Homo sapiens: one gene and its partners. The protein of the gene in region 2 interacts with the protein of the main gene of each other region in a pairwise test. Each region holds a gene or a part of one and is shown on either strand. Other genes may lie near its edges. The genes, in order: CD36, CHRD, KRTAP22-1 and HRG.

Region 1 (5,032 bases), on a different chromosome or scaffold from region 2:
AAGATTAAGTGAACTAGTATATAGGAAACTCTTAGTAAGAATTAAATGTTAGCCATCTAATCTCTAAATTCAGGTTTTATCATATCTTACACTTGCTGAAAAACATACCGACGACTATTGTGTATTGTATCATCAATTAAGTATTTTTCTGCCTGATGTTCTAAGCTTGCTTCCTAACTCTAACCCCATGTTAACTTCTAATCTTTTCTGCTGTTAATCCAGTATTATGGGCACATTCTCTACCTTCTTCCTTCCATCTTCACTGCATTTGGTAGCATTTTCACAGGGTTTTTCATACTATCAATCAGTCCTTTAATATGGTTACTGCAGTTATTTGAGACTTTCAAAATTCTACACTTCTTTAAAATCTGAATCAAGTCCTACCTTTTTCCTGAAGTTTCTTGAATACTCTGAGAGATTTCTCTTTCAAAGTATTACAGCATTTACTTTTCCAATTCAATTCTAGAGTCTCATAGGTCTCGGTATTTTTTATTATAATATATCTTCCCCTGGTTATAGCTTACAATAGATGAGATTATATTATTCTCTTAGTCATTATACAAAAGCACATTTTGATGTCAGAAAACTTACTTTCTCATGGTTAACTATTATAAGCATAAAGATAAATATTAAAGAATTAAAATAAATGCTAGCACCTCACATGCTATTCAAAAGAATCTACATGTACCAGTTTTGTTGCATGACAAAGAAAAAAATTAAATCATCAATACTCAGTTATTGACCAATAATTATGTGTCAGCAAAAAAAAGTAGTCTAAATCGCTGTGCATTGGAAGATTATTGTGATTTTTGAATTTGGAAAACTTTTCCAAATGATGTTGTAGTCTGTACGTTAACACAGACACTGATCTTGTACTTTCTCTGCATAAGATCTGGGTGAGAACATAGTTTATGAGTAGGAAGGATGTCAGATCAATGGCCACTCCATCCCACTATTAGATAAGCCCCACACCTCACTATTACCTGTCTGTTTCCATTGGCCTGTATTAAAAATACTATCAAGAAAACTAAGAATTCCAAGGCAGGGGATACTAATTTACATATGTTTTTTCAGTTAAATGCATGAGGCTGAAGTTCTGCAATATGTTAGCAATAAACACAATACAGTCAGCCCTCTGTATTCATGGGTTCCACATCTGCAGATTCAACCAACTGTGGATCAAAAATATTAAAAATACTAACAATATAGCAATAAAAATTTAATAAAAATTCAATTCCTCCTGTTCTCCATCGTGCACTATGCTTACTAACCCTTTGTCTAGGTCATTGCCATCCTAACCAGGTAGAGAGTTGAAGGCAGAACTCGTTTTATTTGGCCAGTATTATGTTTAATAAAATGAACATTTATGCCTTCAGGCAGTAAACACACAGTCTAGTTCACAGCAGTTCCTGTTCTTCATTTTATCTTGTTCTTGGCACCTTAAATTTTGTTTAACCCCTGTATCCAAACTCCTGCAGCCATTTGAATTTGCCATCCCTGATTTAGAACTTCAGCAGAACTGCTTCCCTTTATTCTCTTCTTCCCCCTATCAATCAACGTTTCTGATGAGTGAGTGTGTAGCTAATTCGAATAAGCTAGGGTGGGAGATGAATTCTAGGTTGTTGTGCAAAGCCCATCTATTCAATCATTCTGTTTTTTCACACTACAGTCAATTTGTTTTATACTAAGACATGTTCTGCATATTTCTGAAAGTATTTTCTAAGATTCCAATATGAAGCTTCACAAATAGAAAATATTTATGAGATGAGATTATTACACATATATAAAAATAGTGGATTACTAAACAGTGTATTACCAAACAAGTTTACCTACAATTTAATAAGGATTTATGTTTCAATATTAAACACATTACACACACACACACACACACACACAGTTTTACTTTTCTCAGTATTAACTAAAGTGCAACTTCTTTTATAAATGTGCTTTTACAAAATATACTCACTTATTTCCTACTCAAAAGCATGCCAACATGCTCTTTGGACATAACTTAAAACAATTATTTCTACTAACATGCATACCTGTAGACAGCTTTTAATAGAATTTGGTATTTATATTTAAGACAGCAATGGAGTCATGTTAAATATACATTATACTTATAACATTTCACATAAAGTCGCATCATATAGAGTTGCAGTGGTTCATAATTACCTTTATGTCAAAGATACAAAATTAGCAGTTACCATGAAATATAAAGCAGGTAAATACAAAGCAAAAAAAGAGAAGTTAGAATCAATCAAAATGAGAAGGCATATTCTTTGGACTACTTGTACCTTTTTAATTGTCTTCTGGATAAGCAGGTCTCCAACTGGCATTAGAATACCTCCAAACACAGCCAGGACAGCACCAATGACAGCCCCAGCGATGAGCCCACAGTTCCGGTCACAGCCCATTTTTCTTGTTCAGGAGGTGAATTAGTGTTAAGCACCTGTTTCTTGCAAACTCCTGGATATGATTAAAGTGGTTTCTACAAGCTCTGGTTCTATCATTAGAAAGAGATCATAAAACAGAAGCTTAAATATCAGTACAAAAAGATCAAAGTACAAAGAAAACACCCACTGAAACGTATCATTTTGCCCGTTCTAAATAAACAAATGCTTTTCTTTTTGTTTCACCAAAGTGGCTTCCTCGGTCCGTCTCCCTTTTCTTGCTTCTAATGCCTACCAGTGGCAGAACTAATAATGTCATATCTGAATTTCTTCATATTCCTCCTTTTTAATTTTCTTTCTACACATGATTAACATATTGAAATCTTATCTAAGGAGAACTCTCACCCTCATCTCTCTTCCCTTGTCTCAGCAACTTAGTTGCATCCTCACTATCTGGTTTCTCCACCCAACACAACCTTCCACACCCCTTCTGGAGCTCTCCTGCGAACAGAATGTGGGTTGACTGATGTGTTTTCCATTAAATGATAAGCAAGTATGGTAACAGATGTTTTATTTACGATACCTTATTCACAAATCAACAGCAAGACATGAATTTTACAGGAAATGAACTGATGAGTCACAGAAAGAATCAATTCGTCTAATCATTGGAAAGCTATCTGTGAAAATAAGAAAAGCATGGGTAAATAGAAAAAAATTCTCAGAAATTTTATACTGGGACACTCTCTAATATCACCATACTTAAAATAACTGTTAAAAGAAAGTCTAATTTTCATGAATACTGAGTTCAGGCCTGAATGGCTTGTCCTAAAAACTGTTTAAAACATGGAATTTTTAAAATAAGAGTATCTTACTTTCAGTTTTATTGATGACTTTGGATAGACTACAGGTATAAAGAATTTGAAGCAAATATAAAATGTAGAGGATGTCTTGTTTCAACCATGGCATTGCTCTCTTACTGAAGAATTTTTTCCCTACACATTCAACTACAATATAGTTTGTCATTTGCAGTTGATTCATGCTAATTCTGTTAAAATTAGGTAGTTTGTGTTAGTATATATTTGTCAATCTAATGTTTGGTGTCTTCATAAAGTATGTGATTATTATTATTTTTTGAGACGGAGTCTTTCTCTGTCACCCAGGCTGGAGTGCAGTGGCACGATCTCGGCTCACTGCAACCTCTGCCTCCTGGGTTCAAGCAATTCTCCTGACTCAGCCTCCTGTGTAGCTGGGATTACAGGTGCACGCCACCATGCCTGGTTAATTTTTGTATTTTCAGTAGAGATGGGGTTTCACCATGTTGGTCAGGCTGGTCTCGAACTCCTGACCTCGTGATCCACCCACCTCAGCCTCCCAAAGTGCTGGGATGACAGGCGTGAGCCACCATGCCCAGCCATAGTATGTGATTATTATATAAAGATTGGGAGAGCCGGGCGTGGTGGCTCACACCTGTCATCCTAGCACTTTGGAAGGCTGAGGCGGGTGGATCACCTGAGGTTGGGAGTTTGAGACCAGCCCGACCAACACAGAGAAACCCCATCTCTACTAAACATACAAAGTTAGCCGGGCTTGGTGGCACATGCTTGTAATCCCAGCTACTCCGGAGGCTGAGGCAGGAGAATCGCTTGAACCCAGGAGGCGGAGGTTGCGGTGAGCCGAGATCATGCCATTGCACTCCAGCCTGGGCAACAAGAGTGAAACTCCATCTCAAAAAAAAAAAAAAAGATTGGAAGAAAGAATACAGTTTGTGAAATGAGTGGATCCTACTGTAATAATCAGAGTTAATTCTAACTAGTATTTGAAAACACATTTATTTGAACTTCTTTGTTGTTGCAATGACATTTTGTCAATAATGGGGTTGGCGTGTCATTTATAGTCAGAATGCGCTTTATAGTTTATAAACAATTATTCTCTACTTTGAAATGCTCATGGCCAAAGAAAACATATGTGCCAACGGAATGAAGGCTACAGTCAAAAAAGGGCACATAGAATATTGTTGTTAATGTTGTAAGTGTATTAATAATTGTGGTTTGTTATAATTTCAGGTTTTCCCTCCACAGCTGTCTTGCAACAGAGGTACCACTCTTATGATTTTATTAGTATTTACTTCCACTTTAGTAATCATATAGTTTTTCAAAAATATTACCTGTAGAGCTAAGAAAAGAATAAGAAAATGATATTTTCCCCCAAAATGTAGGAATAAATGTTACAAATATTTTTCTTGGCAATTTTATTATTTACATATGTTCCCTTAACCTTTGGGATTCCCCTTTGCCTATTCCCTTATACATAGGATACTTTCCAGTATAAACCATAGGATGCAATAAACTTCATTTACATCAAGGTCTTGGTGATTAAGAAGACTGACTAGTTCTTTAGTGTCATTTTTCTCCAATGTAAAGGGAATGCACATAAGTCTAAACAAGTGATTTGTTTTTCCTGTGGAATTTTCTGTCTCACTGAGCAAGTAGGGCTGGCTTTTTATTAATTGTTCAGGGTGGAGTGGTAACAATAGCTTTCCCTGCCCTTGGAAATCGTATACCATGCTACCTCATATGGCTTTGTCCATGGCTGTCCTAATGCAATGGAATGAGTAATTTAATGCTGGTAATCAGGACTGGATA
Region 2 (5,032 bases):
TGTGCCCCTCAGGCCACCCCCTATATACTCTCCCCTTCTTGTCCCCCTCCTGGTTCAACCTAATGGCTCCTCTGGGGCCTCCCACCCTGCACGCACCCTTCCAGCTCACCCTCTCCTGGGTCCCGGCTCCTTGGCAGCCCTGGCAAGTCTCTGACATCTTGTTTCTCTGTGGAGCCAAAGAAATGGTGAAAGCAGAGAGTGACCACCCTCATTCCCTCCCCAAAGGACCTGTCCGCACTGGGCCAACTCCTCCCTCCACTCCCCTGCGGGGAACTCACCAGGGCAAACAGGGCAGCACTGGTCGGGAGCCTGCACCGGGTGTGGGCAGCTGGGCGGTGGGCACACCACCGGGTCACAGATCACCGTTCGTCTCTGCAGAGAGGAGCAGAGGCATTGACGGGAGTGTCCAGGCCCCTTGCTCCAGATCCCAGGACCCAGTGTGCCCTTCCAGGACCTCCTACCTGGCAGGTGCAGAGTGAGCAGAGCGGGTCGTAGTTGGGCGCCCAGCGAGCCCCGTGGGGGCGCTGCTGCCCCTCGAAGAAGCATGTGTTGGGGTCTCGGGGCCGCCCAGGACCACCAGGTTTGGCGGGCGCTAGGGCCGGGAGACCAGGCACCACAGGCGGCGCAGCAGAGGCTGTATCCGGAGCCCCCAGCGCCCGCACCCCCTCGGCCCCGGCCGCCTCCAGGCGCAGTCCGCCAACCTCACATTGGTTGGCTATGTGCACCTGGGAGGAGAGGCCAACTGAGGCAGCGCTGGGGCTCCCCCTCGCGTCTTTACCAGCGGCAGCTGGCCAGCCAGCAGGAGACACCTCGGCCCCCTGAGCGCTGCAGTGGCCCAGGAGGATGCCATTCGCTCCACAATCATCTCAGCTGCCAGGGATAGGGTGCCGGGCTGCCAGCCTCCTCATGTAGCTCATCCTCCCCACCAGCCGGGGGGGCGCTGTGATACGACCACCCCCAGGACTCAGAGACAGCAAGTGACTAGTGCAATGGCACACAGTGCCCCTCCAACTCTGCACCCTCCCCACTGCCCCCACTGCCCACACTCGCCACCTACCTGCCCTCGGAGCTCCCCTCTGGGGCTACCCTTGGTGGTGATCATCAGGGAGGCCATGCCTTTTGCCAGGTGCCGCAGCAGTTCCGGCTCCAGGTCCTTCACCACACCCTGGGCCTGCACATAGACAGGACAATGGATAGGAATAAGGCACTTTAGGGCTGAGCCTACTGTCCCCAGTTCACAGATGAAGAAACTGAGAGCCAGGGAGGTTAAATAAAGTCTTCATGGTAGCAAAGCCCATTGGCAATAGTGTGGAGCTTGGAAGCCAGGTCTCTCTGACCAAGTCCATGAGAACTCACCCCACTTGAAGGGCTTAGTCCATCCCACCTACCCCCCTGAGGTCCAGGATATTACATACTATCCAAGACACCCCACCAAAAAAAGACTTAGAAAGGAGAATGAATAATAAAAAGCCAGTCAGAGTCATGCCCAGGTCTATCTGACTCCCAAGCCCATGCCAGCTCTTTTTTTTTTTTTTTTTTTTTTTTTTTTTGAGACGGATTTTTGCTCTTTCTGTCCAGGCTGGAGTGCAATGGCGCCATCTCGGCTCACTGCAACCTCCACCTCCCAGGTTCAAGCGATTCTCCTGCCTCAGCCTCTGGAGTAGCTGGGATTATAGGCATGTGCCACCACGCCCAGCTAATTTTGTATTTTTAGTAGAGATGGGGTTTCTCCATGTTGGTCAGGCTAGTCTTGAGCTTCCTACCTCAGGTGATCCACCCACCTGGCCTCCCAAAGTGCTGGGATTACAGGCTTGAGCCACTGCACCCAGCCTACAAATCACTGTTTAATTTATTTTATTTATGCCAGCTCTTCTATACCAGGCTGCCTGCTCTCTGCTTTCCCCAACACAGGCCCACACAGCCCTTCAAGCTAAAAAACAGAAATGTTCCAAGCTGCCGCCTACCATCACATCCTTACCTCTGAGCCATAGAATCCCTTCAGCAGCCGCCGAGGCCCTGGCGTTCCAGGAGGCCCAAGGAGGTGGGCAGTGACAGTGCCTTGTTCTGAGCCACCAAGCCCAGCCAGCAGCACTTCATAGTGCAGGTGACAGTGGGTATCCAAGGAAAGCCAGGCGTGCCCTGCTGCTTGGCTCTTCACAGGGGGTAGCACCAGGGCTCCTGCTAGGGGCACGGGCAGCGCTGGGTCCAGACAGAGGAGAGATGACAGGTGAGAAGGTGGCCTAGGGCAAGCCCTCAAACCCAGCATTCCCAGCTCCCCAGCACACATTCCACGAGCTGGAAGACACTGTCCATAGGTCCAGGGCCTGGAGAGCAGCAAGTTTTAGACCCTTGAACCTCAGCAACAGGAAGAGTCCGCCAGCAGGGCCACCCTATATGTCCCCACCTTCAGATGGCAACCGGAGCTTAGGCACAAAGAAAGACACACCAGGCTCCGGCTGTCTGCCACCATCCCTCAAATGTTCTAGGAAACCAAAGGGCAGACAGACCCCTAAGGACACTCACTGTCATGGCGGGCGCTATGCCCACAGTAGGGCAGGGCAGCCACGTGCCCCCGAAGCTCTCCGTCTGGGAAGTCCTTGGTGCCCACGTTCAGGAAGAGCTCATTCTGCAGCAGCATATGAGCCCCTCGGGCACCCAGCCCAGGGCAGATACCCACGGCCTGGGGGCAGGGGAGGATAGGCCTTCTCAGCTCTCACACGAGTCCAAGGTTCTGAAGTCTTGGACCATTTTGTGCCCCCACTCCACCCACACACACTTCCACACACCAGAAACACAGGATAAGGACCTGGCAGGCCCAGTTTCAAGGCCCTCCCCTGCTGCTTCCTAGCTATGTAACAACCTTCAAGAGTAACTTAACTTCTCCAAGTCTTCACTTCCTCATCTCTCAAATGGATACTGTGAAAGCCAAAAACTATGTAAGGCCACCAATGCAGCACCTAGCACATGGAAAGGCCCTATAAGTAGCAACCATTGCCATTACATTTACTAATATGTGGCCTGTGGCACTGTTCTCCAGGTCCAATGCTCCCATTTGACTGTGAGCTTGCTAAGCACAGGGGCCACATATGATTTGCTTTGTACTCTAGTCCCTAGTCTGGGGCTCACTAAAAATGTCAAATCATGCCGGGCACGGTGGCTCTCGCCTGTAATCCCAGCACTTTGGGAGGCCGAAGTGGGCGGACCATGAGGTCAAGAGATCAAGACCATCCTGGCCAACACGGTGAAACCCCGTCTCTACTAAAAATACAGAAATTAGCTGGGTGTGGTGGTGCACACCTGTGGTCCCAGCTACTTGGGAGGCTGAGGCAGGAGAATCGCTTGAACCCAGGAGGCAGAGGTTGCAGTAAGCCAAGATCACACCACTGCACTCCAGCCTGGTGACAGAGCCAGACTCCATCTCAAAAAAAAAAAAAAAAAAAAGTCAAATGAATAAATGAATGAGTGGGAGAACCCATGAGTGAGTGGATGATAATGAACATCCCTGCTCATCCAACCTGGCTTCCCACAGCCCATGCATTGGGCCCTGGGGTCCAGCTCCACCTGGAGCCCTCACCGTGTGTCCTCCTGGCTGGAGTCCAGCCATGTGGCACAGGACAGTGCGCTGATCCCTCCGCTGAGGCTTGGTCTCCAGTGTCATGGCCACCACCTCACTGCTTGTCCCTACCACTTGCACCTGATGGGCAGGGATGGAGGAGGGCAAAGTGGAGAGGCAGTAAAGGCCTGGGGCCTGCTGCCCACGCCACCCCTCCCCCACCTTCTGCAGCCCCTGGCTCTTACCTGATAGATCAGGGAGCCATTTCCTAGCAGCGTGAGGCTGGCTGAGCCGGCAGCACCCGTCTGGACTGGGATCAGGGCATCAGCCCCACAAAGGACACTTTGCAGGACTACGGAGGGGCAAGACAGGTGAGGCTAGGTTTACCCCATGGCCGCTTACACCCCCAGTCCACAGGATCTCTCCCACACCCACCCTGGCACTTGTCTGTGTCTCTCAGTTGTGCATGCCCGGCGCACCAGGCCCCCCCCCCGCCTCACCGTCGCAGCTCTTCCTGGCAGCAATGTGTCCACTGATGCGCAGCCCTGGCCTGCCTGCCCACTCCAGGGCCATCTGCAGCTCCCCCAGCACCAGCCAGTCCATCTCCTGGACTGTCAGGTTGGGCAGCACCTCAGCAAAGCCTGGTTCCTGGGGACAGAGCAGGGTGTGATGGGCAATAGCAAGAGGCCAAGACAGGTGGCAGCGAGAGCCAGATCCCCACTCACCTGGGCTGAGACATTGGCCTGAAGTTCTCGCAGTAGCTGCCCCTGGTGTAGAATCTGGAGCCTCAAGGGAACCTGGGTTAGTCCTGCAAGGCCGCACATGTGGGCCTTTCTGAGACAGGTGCTCTCCCTAACCTTCTCACGTGTTTTGCCCCCATCCCACTTACCCCCACTCCTGGGTTCCAGCAGCCCTCGGAAGAGCAGCAAAAAATGCAAGGAGTCCTCTGTGTCACTGAGAGTGAGCAGGGTGATGCCCCCTACGCCCTGCTGTGGGGGGCCTTCTAGAGTCAGGATGGCACTGAAGGTCTCTGGGGAAGGGACGATGATGAGAGCCCGTCAGAAACCCTCCCCCCCTTTCCTGGGTGATAGAGAAGACTCAGAACTTCACGCCCGGGGCTCTTTGCTCCCTACCTGCAGCCAGGGCCCGGTGCCGGATGAGAGGCCCCCAGACCTCCCCTGAAGGGTGAGTGAGTGTCACAAGTGCCACATGCAGCTGTTCTGCCCTAAGGAGCCGCAGAGACAACCGAGGCACTGCCCGCCACACCCCACAGACCTGGAGCAGAGAGACAAGAAGGCCCTACGCTCAGACACTGTGCAGGCTAGGCCAATTAGGATGCCCAGGCAGGGCTTATGAAAAAGGAACATGGAAAGGAACCTCCAGGGTGCCCTAGGAAGCTTAAGAAAGAACGCTGGAGCCAGATGCTTGGGTTCCAATCCTGGCTGCACCACTTACTAGCTGTGTGACCTTGAACAAATC
Region 3 (3,722 bases), on a different chromosome or scaffold from region 2:
GTAGAAACTCCAAATGTTAACATTAGTCACTAACAGATTAGAAGATATTTTTGCTTTATATTTTTATCAATGTCGACTGATAAATAATAAGTAGAGTGAATAAAGAACAGCTTTGCTTAACTTGAGCACGGCTGGCAAACTGAAGTCTATATTTTTCAGCTTGTATTTTGGGTCAGACTTGTGTCTTCAAGAAGAAAGTATTACCTGAGGTAGCAGATATTGACCTTGATAAAAGGTTCACAGAAACATACTTAAATTTGATGGACTCTCTGTGGCCACATGGGTCTGACACTTGGAAGTGCTGTCTATGCAGCCACCAGGCATAGGATGAGTTCAAGAGTATATTTTTTCAGAGTTAAAAGAAACAGCCATAATATAGGATTTAGAGAAAAAGTTACAGCTATCTAGAGCCAAAAATGCAACTAAGTATCAAGAAATGTAATGTATGTGCAACAGAATAAAGTGATGAGAAGGGAGGTACTATTTTTGCCAATGATTTTAGTCAAACATTGGATACACTGAAGATGAGGCTTTGATAGATCAAAGTAAATTATAGTACCACTTGGCTCTGCCCATGAGAATACATTTTATCAAAGTACTATTGGTCAGACCTAACACATCCACATCATCAACTGTAAGTTTCCAATGGGTCAGCAACCTTACATATGTGCTCCTGAACACACACACACAATCACAAATAATATAGGTACTCTAGATAAATAAATATAGGTAGGAAAATGCTGTAGGTTTGCAAAATAAATTACCTTTGAAGAAAAATAAATTTAGACTTTTTCCCAAATGAAAATGCTTAACATTATTTGTACTTAATCATATACTAGTAACACAACATCAAAGGTTCTTTTTTCGTTTGATTAAATTGTTGGAAATTCCAGCTAATTGATCAAATAAATTCTGACTTGGCAATGTGGGCTAAATTTTAGTTGTCACTCTTTGAACAGAAAAAAACACGGGAAGAAAACATAGCTCATAAGAGAATGGCCTAAACAGATCAGCAATCTCTAATTTCTCAGAAGCAGCCAGAAAACCAAGATCTTTCATAACACCATGGGCAGTAGCAGGCATAGCCATAGCCGCTAAGACCACAGCCATAGCTGCAGCCCAGGCCTCCTTTGGCATAGCCCTGGCCACCATGGTAGTTGTTATCAAAGCTCATGGTTTCAAGAAAGGTAGGCTCAGTTGTATAGCAGGATCAGATTCTAGAGTTTTAAGTTTATAGAGTTTTAAGTTTAAAGTTTTAAGCTTATAATAAGGGCCTTAAATGCCACATGAATGGTATGTGGGACAAATCACAGGCACTGTTAGATTCACATTCCACACTAATTAGCATTGAAACCATCTAAAATATTCCTTGTAACCAATACATCCAAGACAACTTTGCTGTTTCTCAGGAATGTTGAATATAATGAAATAATGTACCTTTAATAAGAGATCCATCTCCTATTTTGATGACTCGTTTATTTCAGATGTCAAATTTAAACTACATTACCAGCAACCAAGAGTAACCCACATGGCTTCCACTTGTTGTTGTTGTTGTTGTTGTTGTTGTGAGACAGAGACTAGCTCTGTTGCCTGGCTGGAGTGCAGTGGCACAATCTCACTGCAACCTCCACCTCCTGGTTTCAAGTGATTCTCCTGGATTCTCTGCCTCAGCCTTATGAATAGCTGGTGCGTGCCACCACGCCCAGCTAATTTTTGTATTTTTAGTAGAGATGGGGTTTCGCCATGTTGGCCAGGATGGTCTTGATCTCCTGACCTCAAGATCCGCCCGCCTCGGCCTCCCAAAGCCTGGGGTTATGGACGTGATGGCTTCCATTTTTTAAAAATCCTACTTTCACCCAATAATATCCTTCAGCCTAAATACATATATGCAGACTTGGGAATAAGAGTGTAGCTCCAAAGTGATAAGGAAGGATGATAAGCGTGTAAGAGAAGTCATGGTGGCAGCATTCACTTGTAAAATGTTGAGTGATAAGGTGTTTCATCACTTTTTGTGGAGCAATATCATTCTCTTTGGTTTATACTTCACATGTAGCTATCATTTTATATATGATTCTAAACCGTGGCAAAGACTTTGATTTTTGACTTCGTTGATTCTGGGTATATAGTAAGAAAAGGACTTCTATTAAAAATCTGAATTTTAAAACAATTCCAGAATTACTCAAAGATTTATTGGCATCATGACTCCCTGAGATGGCACAAGACAAGAGTTACATCTCTTCCCAAATGTATAACCTCAATCTACATATGAGGAAACCTTAGACAGATTCAATTGGGGAATATTCCACAAAATATCTGGCTCTCTAAAATTGTAAGGTCATAAAAGCCAAGAAAAGACGAATGAACCATGAGCAATTGGAGGTGACTAAGAAGTATAAAAACCAAATGCAATGTGAATTGGATCCAAGAACAGAAAAAAAGAACATTAAAATAAATATGTGAATAGTGCTACAATGAACCATGGTCCTAGAACTTAAAATAAAATAAGTTAATAATAACAGAAAAATGGTAAAATAAAGTCTGCAGTTTAGTTAAGAATACTGTACACAGTTAATTTCTTTGGTGTGATAAGTGGATTATGGTTATGAAAGATATTAATATTAGGGATGTTGAATGATGGATATATGGAAATTTTCTATACTATTTTGACAACTATCTCTATGCCTGAGATTATTTTAAGATAAGAAGTTAAAAGAGAATATAAAACTATTGTTCCATTTCATTGACTTGGTCACTTATTAATTCTTTTATAAATCAAGAAAATAACTTACATTTTCTTGTTCTTCCGTAGAGGTTGAACATAAAGGAAAATTAGACTCACTGGTATAAGTAGAAAAATACAACAAATTTTTCTCAGATCTGGTTTTCTAGAATTTTTAATTAGTTGAATTATTATCAACATCATGGCTTTAGTATAGAAAAGACACTAAATCCCTGAAAAAAGTATTATTTGGATAAAGAGAGCAGAAATACTAAAAGGGCAAAGTTATTGTTTGCTGAATGTTGTGCAAAAGAGTACAATTAATTGGGGCCTAGAGCAAATAAGAGTGTAACTAACAAAAGTCTTTCTTGATGTAAAGGATGGCTATAGAAAGTCTAGTTTGAGGCAGGATTATATGAGTGTGAGTGTGTGAGGTCTCCTTTCATCAGAGCCCTCAATCAGATAAGGGGAGCCCAAATTGCAAGGCCAAACAAAACAAGCCTCCTTAATACCTCTGCAGCATTATCTTACAATTGAGAAAAAACAAACTAATTATATTAGTCAAAAAATTAGCCAGTGGTATGCTACCTCTGCTGGATCATTCCCATCCTGAGGCATATAAAAGGACTTCTACAGGAAGTATCCATACTGAAGTCACCTACACTCCTTCCTACCCAAGGACAACCTCCACAACCATCACGATGTGCGGCAGCTACTACGGAAACTACTACGGCGACCATGGCTATGGGTGCTGTGGATACGAAGGCCTAGGCTATGGCTATGGAAGCCTGCGCTGTGGCTATAGCTCCTGCTGTGGCTATGGTCATGGCTACGGCTCCCGCTTCTTCTGTGGCTGTGGCTATGGATGCGGCTCTGGCTACTACTATTGAGGACACCGTGGGAGACTCATCCTCTATCCTGTGACATCGGGATTCACCAATTCTGAACCCCGTATGCTCTGAGCTCGGGGCTGGATGAAGATTATCTTATATTAAAAGTTTCT
Region 4 (5,032 bases), 2.3 Mb from region 2:
GCTCCCAGATCATAGATTCCACAAATCAATTTAAAAAGTATTACGAAAAAAGATTCTCAAATTGTTATCTAGCCCAGTTGATATTTAAAATATTAACAATAACTATCATTTACCACCATCATTGTTTCACAAAAGAAACTATTTTTTTTTTCTGAGACTGAGTCTCGCTCTGTCACCCAGTCTGGAGTGCAGTGGTGCGATCTCTGCTCATTGCAACATCCACCTCTCAGGTTCAAGCAATTCTCCTGCCTCAGCCTCCCAAGTAGCTGGGACTACACGCCCAAGCCACCATGCCCACCTAATTTTTTTTTTTCTTTTTTTGAGACATAGTCTTACTCTGTTGCCCAGACTCCTAATTTTTGTATTTTTAGTAGAGACAGGTTTCACCATGTTGAACTCCTTGTTTCAAGTAATCCACCCATCTCAGCTTCCCAAAGTGCTGGGATTACAGGCATGAGCCACCATGCCCAGCCTGGAATGAAATTTTGATTTAAAAAAAAAAGAAAGAGCCAGAAACACAATATCAGAGTAAAGGATTGTCCTTTAGATGGATAAATGTTAGATATAAAAAACTTCATTATCCTTATTTTTTTTTCATTTTTACTACACAGAGTGGTGAAACAATATTATGACCTGGCACCCATCTGTAGACCAACACTGGAAAACTAGTGCCTTATAACTGATATTCTTAACTGAGGCTTGATGGTATCAACATCCCTTACTCCTAAAGGCTGAACACTTGACCTCTTCTCTCTCTTCCTTGTTCAGAGTTTAATTTTTTAAAAAATAGCTACAGAGGCCGGGCACGGTGGCTCATGTCTGTAATCCCAGAACTTTGGGAGGCTGAGGCAGGTGGATCACCTAAGGTCAGGAGTTTGAGACCAACCTGACCAACATGGAGAAACCCCTTCTCTACTAAAAATGCAAAATTAGCCAGGTATGGTGGCGCATGCCTGTAATCCTAGCTACTCAGGAGGCTGAGGCAGGAGAATCGCTTGAACCCAGGAGGCAGAGGTTGTGGTGAGCCGAGATGGCACCATTGTATTCCAGCCTGGGCAATAAGAGCAAAACTCCTTCTCAAAAAAAAAAAAAAAAAAAAAGACAGAGCCATGTTCATGGTGACAATCCTGCCCTTTGTTCCTTTTTCTTTTTTTTAACTTGGGATTGGATGTTTGGATTATTTTAAGTTTTGTTTCTGATATGAAAAATTTCGTGAAGCAAATCTTTGTACTCATGTAAAAAATAGACCAAAGATTTCTGAGACAGATGCAAAATATGGTTTTGCATCTTATTTTATATACATTTACATAATAAATTTGAGGCTGATATATTCCTCTTAGATTCTATGCCCAATAATATAAGCTTAGGAATGACTAAGTCTCAGCACTAGAGTCCCGACTACAAAGAGCATTTTCAAATTCCTTCAAGTTTGGTTGAATTGGACATGATTTTAATTTTCTGCCAATTGTTACCCCTCTTCAATTCTTGGAAAAGTTTTCATACTTTTTGTGTAATCTGGCAATTGCACTCCTTTCCCCAGTTGTGGGATACTCTCTGTATCTTTTTTCTTGCATGTCTGTCTGTCTCTCTCTTTCTCTCTCTCCCTGTCTCCCTCTCTCTGTCTCTGTCTCTGTCTCTCTCTCTCTCTCTCTCTCTCACACACACACACACACACACACACCCACTCATAGAGCTTTAGGAAGCAACAACACTATTTGTGTACGTATGTCACTTAATCTGGCACTGCCATGACAAAGTCTGCTTAGACAACCCACCTGAGGGTCGAAGACTTCACAGTTTATGACAAGGTTTTTCGGGCTTTCCAAGTCCAAGGCTTCTACATCATAGAACAAATCTGCTCTGCAGAATCCAAAGACCTACAAAGGAATGAGGAGCTGTTAGTGTGTGTGTCCAGGTGGTGTGAAGATGACCAGCCAGAGTTAGCTTCCAGACATTCAGAAAAGGAAGAAGTGCTTTAGAAAAATCAGGGTAATATGATCAGATATTCCCACCAGTCGTTCAGCAATCTTTCCTTGTTAACACTTTGGGGAAAGTGCAGGTGGTGAAGGGTATCACTAAAGTTGCTGTGGTTTTTTTCATGAGCAGGCACCAGCACTGGGCTTCCCCATGGGTGATGGAAATGATGAGGAAAACCACATCATTGCTGCCTTGCCTTTAGGCCAACCCTTCTGCACTGGAGACCTCAGTTGCCTGTGCCTAGGACAATGAGGAATGGTGTCAAAGAGGGATTTTTACAACTTCAGCTGGTCCCTTGGAGGAAAGTGTTGGACAGGAGGGCATCTGTATAGCATAAAGATGGGTTTTCATGGACATTGTCAAGGCAAGTGTCTGCTGACTCCACCCAAGTGCCAGGGCTACAACTGGCTGCCACTCCTGTGCTCCAGATGCTCCTAAACCCACCTGTGAAAGATCGACTAGGACAAGAGGACGGCTGTCTGCTAGAAGAAATTGCTAAGCATTGAGGTTCTGAGTACAGTTTGGGAATCAGAGAGACCTATGTTAATCCTGGCTTCTCCATTTCCTAGTTGTCTGAGTTTGGGAAAGTTACAAAAGATTTCTGAAAGTCAGCCATTGTAAAATGGGGATAATACTATGTACTCACAGGTTGTGGGAGGGATTAATTAAACAAGAGGATGCTGTAAAACACTTACCCCTGAGCCTCCTCTTCAGCTCTGGTGCTTCAACTCTGGGTTTACATTATCCACACCAAGATCATGAAGGGTTTGTTGGCCATAGGAGTAGGGGAGGGAGGTGTCTTTTCTGGTGGGCGCTAAGAAGGTTTCTAGACCTGGTTCAGTGTGGACATTAGAAGAGCTAACAAAGGTACTAATGGATGGTTTCTCCCTTTTGACCAGGGAGAATGTGTTGTTAAACCTCAGAAAAATCCTGGACTTGGCATCATAATTAAAATTCCATTTCCTAACACTCTCTAGCTAAGTGCCTTTAGGTAAGTGGTTTTAATTTCAGGTCCCCTTGTCACAGGAAATGTAGGCAGATACTTGCTTTTCCTTGTCAGCAGGATTTTCATGAGGCTCTCCTGGCAATAACAGATGTGGAGGTGTTTCTTTAACTGTAGGTCACCATGCAAATGCCAGGTGGTATTAATAATGTCTTCTGGCAGGTACATGGGAATCTATTTGTAAATGATTAGAGGAAAAATCCCACTGGACTTTGTATGAGAATAACTAAGTTTTAATCTCAGCTTGGTTGTGAACATCGGCAAGACCTTTCCTTTGCTGATTTTCAGTTACCTCCTCATTTGTCAAGTGGGATTCCTGTGAGTGTGATGATGTGGAATTAATAAAACCACTTGGCGTAGGGTCTTAGTACGAACTGCTATAGTTCTAACTAAGCCTTTAATCCTAATCAGTTAGAAACTTAGTTTTAAGTTTAGGTATATATCATGTATATTATAAAATCATGTTCTTATGGTTCGCTTATGTTCTCTGTGCCTCAGTTCCCCTATCTGCTAATTTGGGATTAAAAATGGTATCTATCTCATATGGTAGTGTGAGGGTTAATAAGTTATCATAGGCTGGGCATGGTGGCTTGCGCCTGTAACCCCAGCACTTTGATTTGTAATCCCAGCCGAAGTGGGTGGACACCTGAGATAAGGAGTTTGAGACCAACCTGATCAACATGGTGAAACCCCATCTCTACTAAAAATACAAAAATTAGCTGGGCGTGGTGGTGCATGCCTGTAATCCCAGTTACTCCGGAGGCTGAGGCAGGAGAATCGCCTGAACCCGGGAGGCGGAGGTTGCAGTGAGCCGACACTGTGCCATTGCACTCCAACCTGGGCAACAAGAGCGAAACTCCATCTCAAAAACAAAACAAAACAATAAGTTATCTGATGTGTAAATCACTTAGAAGAGTGCCTGGCAGGTACTAAGTGCTTCCCAGATGATACTTTGTATTTCACAGACATTTCTTCCTCCTTCTCCTCCTCCTCATTTTCTCCTTCTCATTCCTCTTCTCCTTCTTCTCCTTCCTCTCCTTCTCCTTCTCCTTCTCCTTCTTCTCTTTCTTTTTTCTCTGTGACTCTAGTCAACGATCACAGACATTTCTTATACTCACATTGGGGTGTCTGGGGAAATGGTGTCTGGGGCAGTTCCGCACAGAGAAGTCCACGAAGTAACCAGTTCCTTCCCCTCCTCTCTAGAACAGATGGGATCAAAATAGTTTCAAGAACAGACAAAGAAAAAGGAAAAAAAAGCAGTAGATAACTACCATTCAATATTTTTTAAGGCAGTATGAGAATTCAAAATCACCAGTATGTGTCATTTTTTAAAATGGTTTCTGCCTTTTAAAAATGTATCACCTAAGTGATAAGGTGAATACCAGTTCACTGAAAAGGTTCAAATAATAAATATATGATAAAGTAGAGTGTGAAAAATCACCTCTCCTGCACTCCAACTTCTTCCCAGAGTTTTCATTCTCATTTATTTGATGTGTTTCCTCTTCGAGTGTTTTCCTAGATGTGTTACACATACACAGGGAGATCTAAGTGTTTCATATAAATGGGTCCATAGTCTAAGTACTGTTCTATAACCTGCATTTTCCTATACCAATATGTTTTCAAACTCCAGTGCGCATGGGTCCAAACATTCTTTGAGCAACTGCATGGTACTCATTTCCTTACTTGTATGCAACACAATCTATTTAACGCTGCATTTTCTGAATGCATAGCAAATGTCAACCAGTTGCTCTACAAGACAGCTCTGGGTGAAAGTACTTGGGTCCTTGTAGAGAGAGCAGGGAACCATCTAACTATAGGCACATTACTGGGTGTGGTGAGGTAATTTCTCTGAACTTCAGTTTTCCATCATAGTACAAGAATGTTAGTATTGGATGATTTGCAATGACACAACCCTCATATGTTCTTGTCTTTCCCTGTTTCCTCTTTAGATTTTCTCCCTACTCTGTCAGATGTCTACTCCCCTACCCATCCTTCAAAAAAAAAAAAAAGTGTTTGAGGAAAGCAATTTTTTTGTATTTTTTAAATACCTGC

The links.
Region 1: the proteins of CHRD (region 2) and CD36 interact in a two-hybrid assay, tested with the Homo sapiens proteins (one large-scale study listed by BioGRID and IntAct).
Region 3: the proteins of CHRD (region 2) and KRTAP22-1 interact in a two-hybrid assay, tested with the Homo sapiens proteins (one large-scale study listed by BioGRID).
Region 4: the proteins of CHRD (region 2) and HRG interact in a two-hybrid assay, tested with the Homo sapiens proteins (one large-scale study listed by BioGRID and IntAct).

The regions. Positions count from the first base shown.
Region 1 is NC_000007.14:80,644,123-80,649,154, reverse strand, and holds part of CD36 (platelet glycoprotein 4), read right to left. Parts: intron 3,068-5,032; 5' UTR 2,974-3,067; intron 2,907-2,973; exon of another isoform or gene 2,796-2,906; intron 2,710-2,795; exon of another isoform or gene 2,504-2,709; 5' UTR 2,415-2,503; coding exon 2,295-2,414; intron 1-2,294.
Region 2 is NC_000003.12:184,382,185-184,387,216, reverse strand, and holds part of CHRD (chordin isoform 1 precursor), read right to left. Parts: intron 4,829-5,032; coding exon 4,687-4,828; intron 4,584-4,686; coding exon 4,443-4,583; coding exon of another isoform or gene 4,362-4,442; coding exon 4,279-4,361; exon of another isoform or gene 4,202-4,278; coding exon 4,054-4,201; intron 3,906-4,053; coding exon 3,799-3,905; intron 3,695-3,798; coding exon 3,575-3,694; intron 2,681-3,574; coding exon 2,524-2,680; intron 2,200-2,523; coding exon 1,979-2,199; intron 1,172-1,978; coding exon 1,058-1,171; intron 941-1,057; coding exon of another isoform or gene 914-940; exon of another isoform or gene 733-913; intron 726-732; coding exon 462-725; intron 373-461; coding exon 279-372; intron 167-278; coding exon 110-166; intron 1-109. UniProt on the Homo sapiens protein: Dorsalizing factor. Key developmental protein that dorsalizes early vertebrate embryonic tissues by binding to ventralizing TGF-beta family bone morphogenetic proteins (BMPs) and sequestering them in latent complexes.
Region 3 is NC_000021.9:30,598,573-30,602,294, reverse strand, and holds KRTAP22-1 (keratin-associated protein 22-1), read right to left. Parts: upstream 1,209-3,722; 5' UTR 1,175-1,208; coding exon 1,028-1,174; 3' UTR 913-1,027; downstream 1-912. Other genes in the region: KRTAP6-2 (keratin-associated protein 6-2), read left to right, coding at 3,421-3,609. UniProt on the Homo sapiens protein: In the hair cortex, hair keratin intermediate filaments are embedded in an interfilamentous matrix, consisting of hair keratin-associated proteins (KRTAP), which are essential for the formation of a rigid and resistant hair shaft through their extensive disulfide bond cross-linking with abundant cysteine residues of hair keratins.
Region 4 is NC_000003.12:186,671,934-186,676,965, reverse strand, and holds part of HRG (histidine-rich glycoprotein precursor), read right to left. Parts: intron 4,180-5,032; coding exon 4,099-4,179; intron 1,878-4,098; coding exon 1,776-1,877; intron 1-1,775. UniProt on the Homo sapiens protein: Plasma glycoprotein that binds a number of ligands such as heme, heparin, heparan sulfate, thrombospondin, plasminogen, and divalent metal ions. Binds heparin and heparin/glycosaminoglycans in a zinc-dependent manner.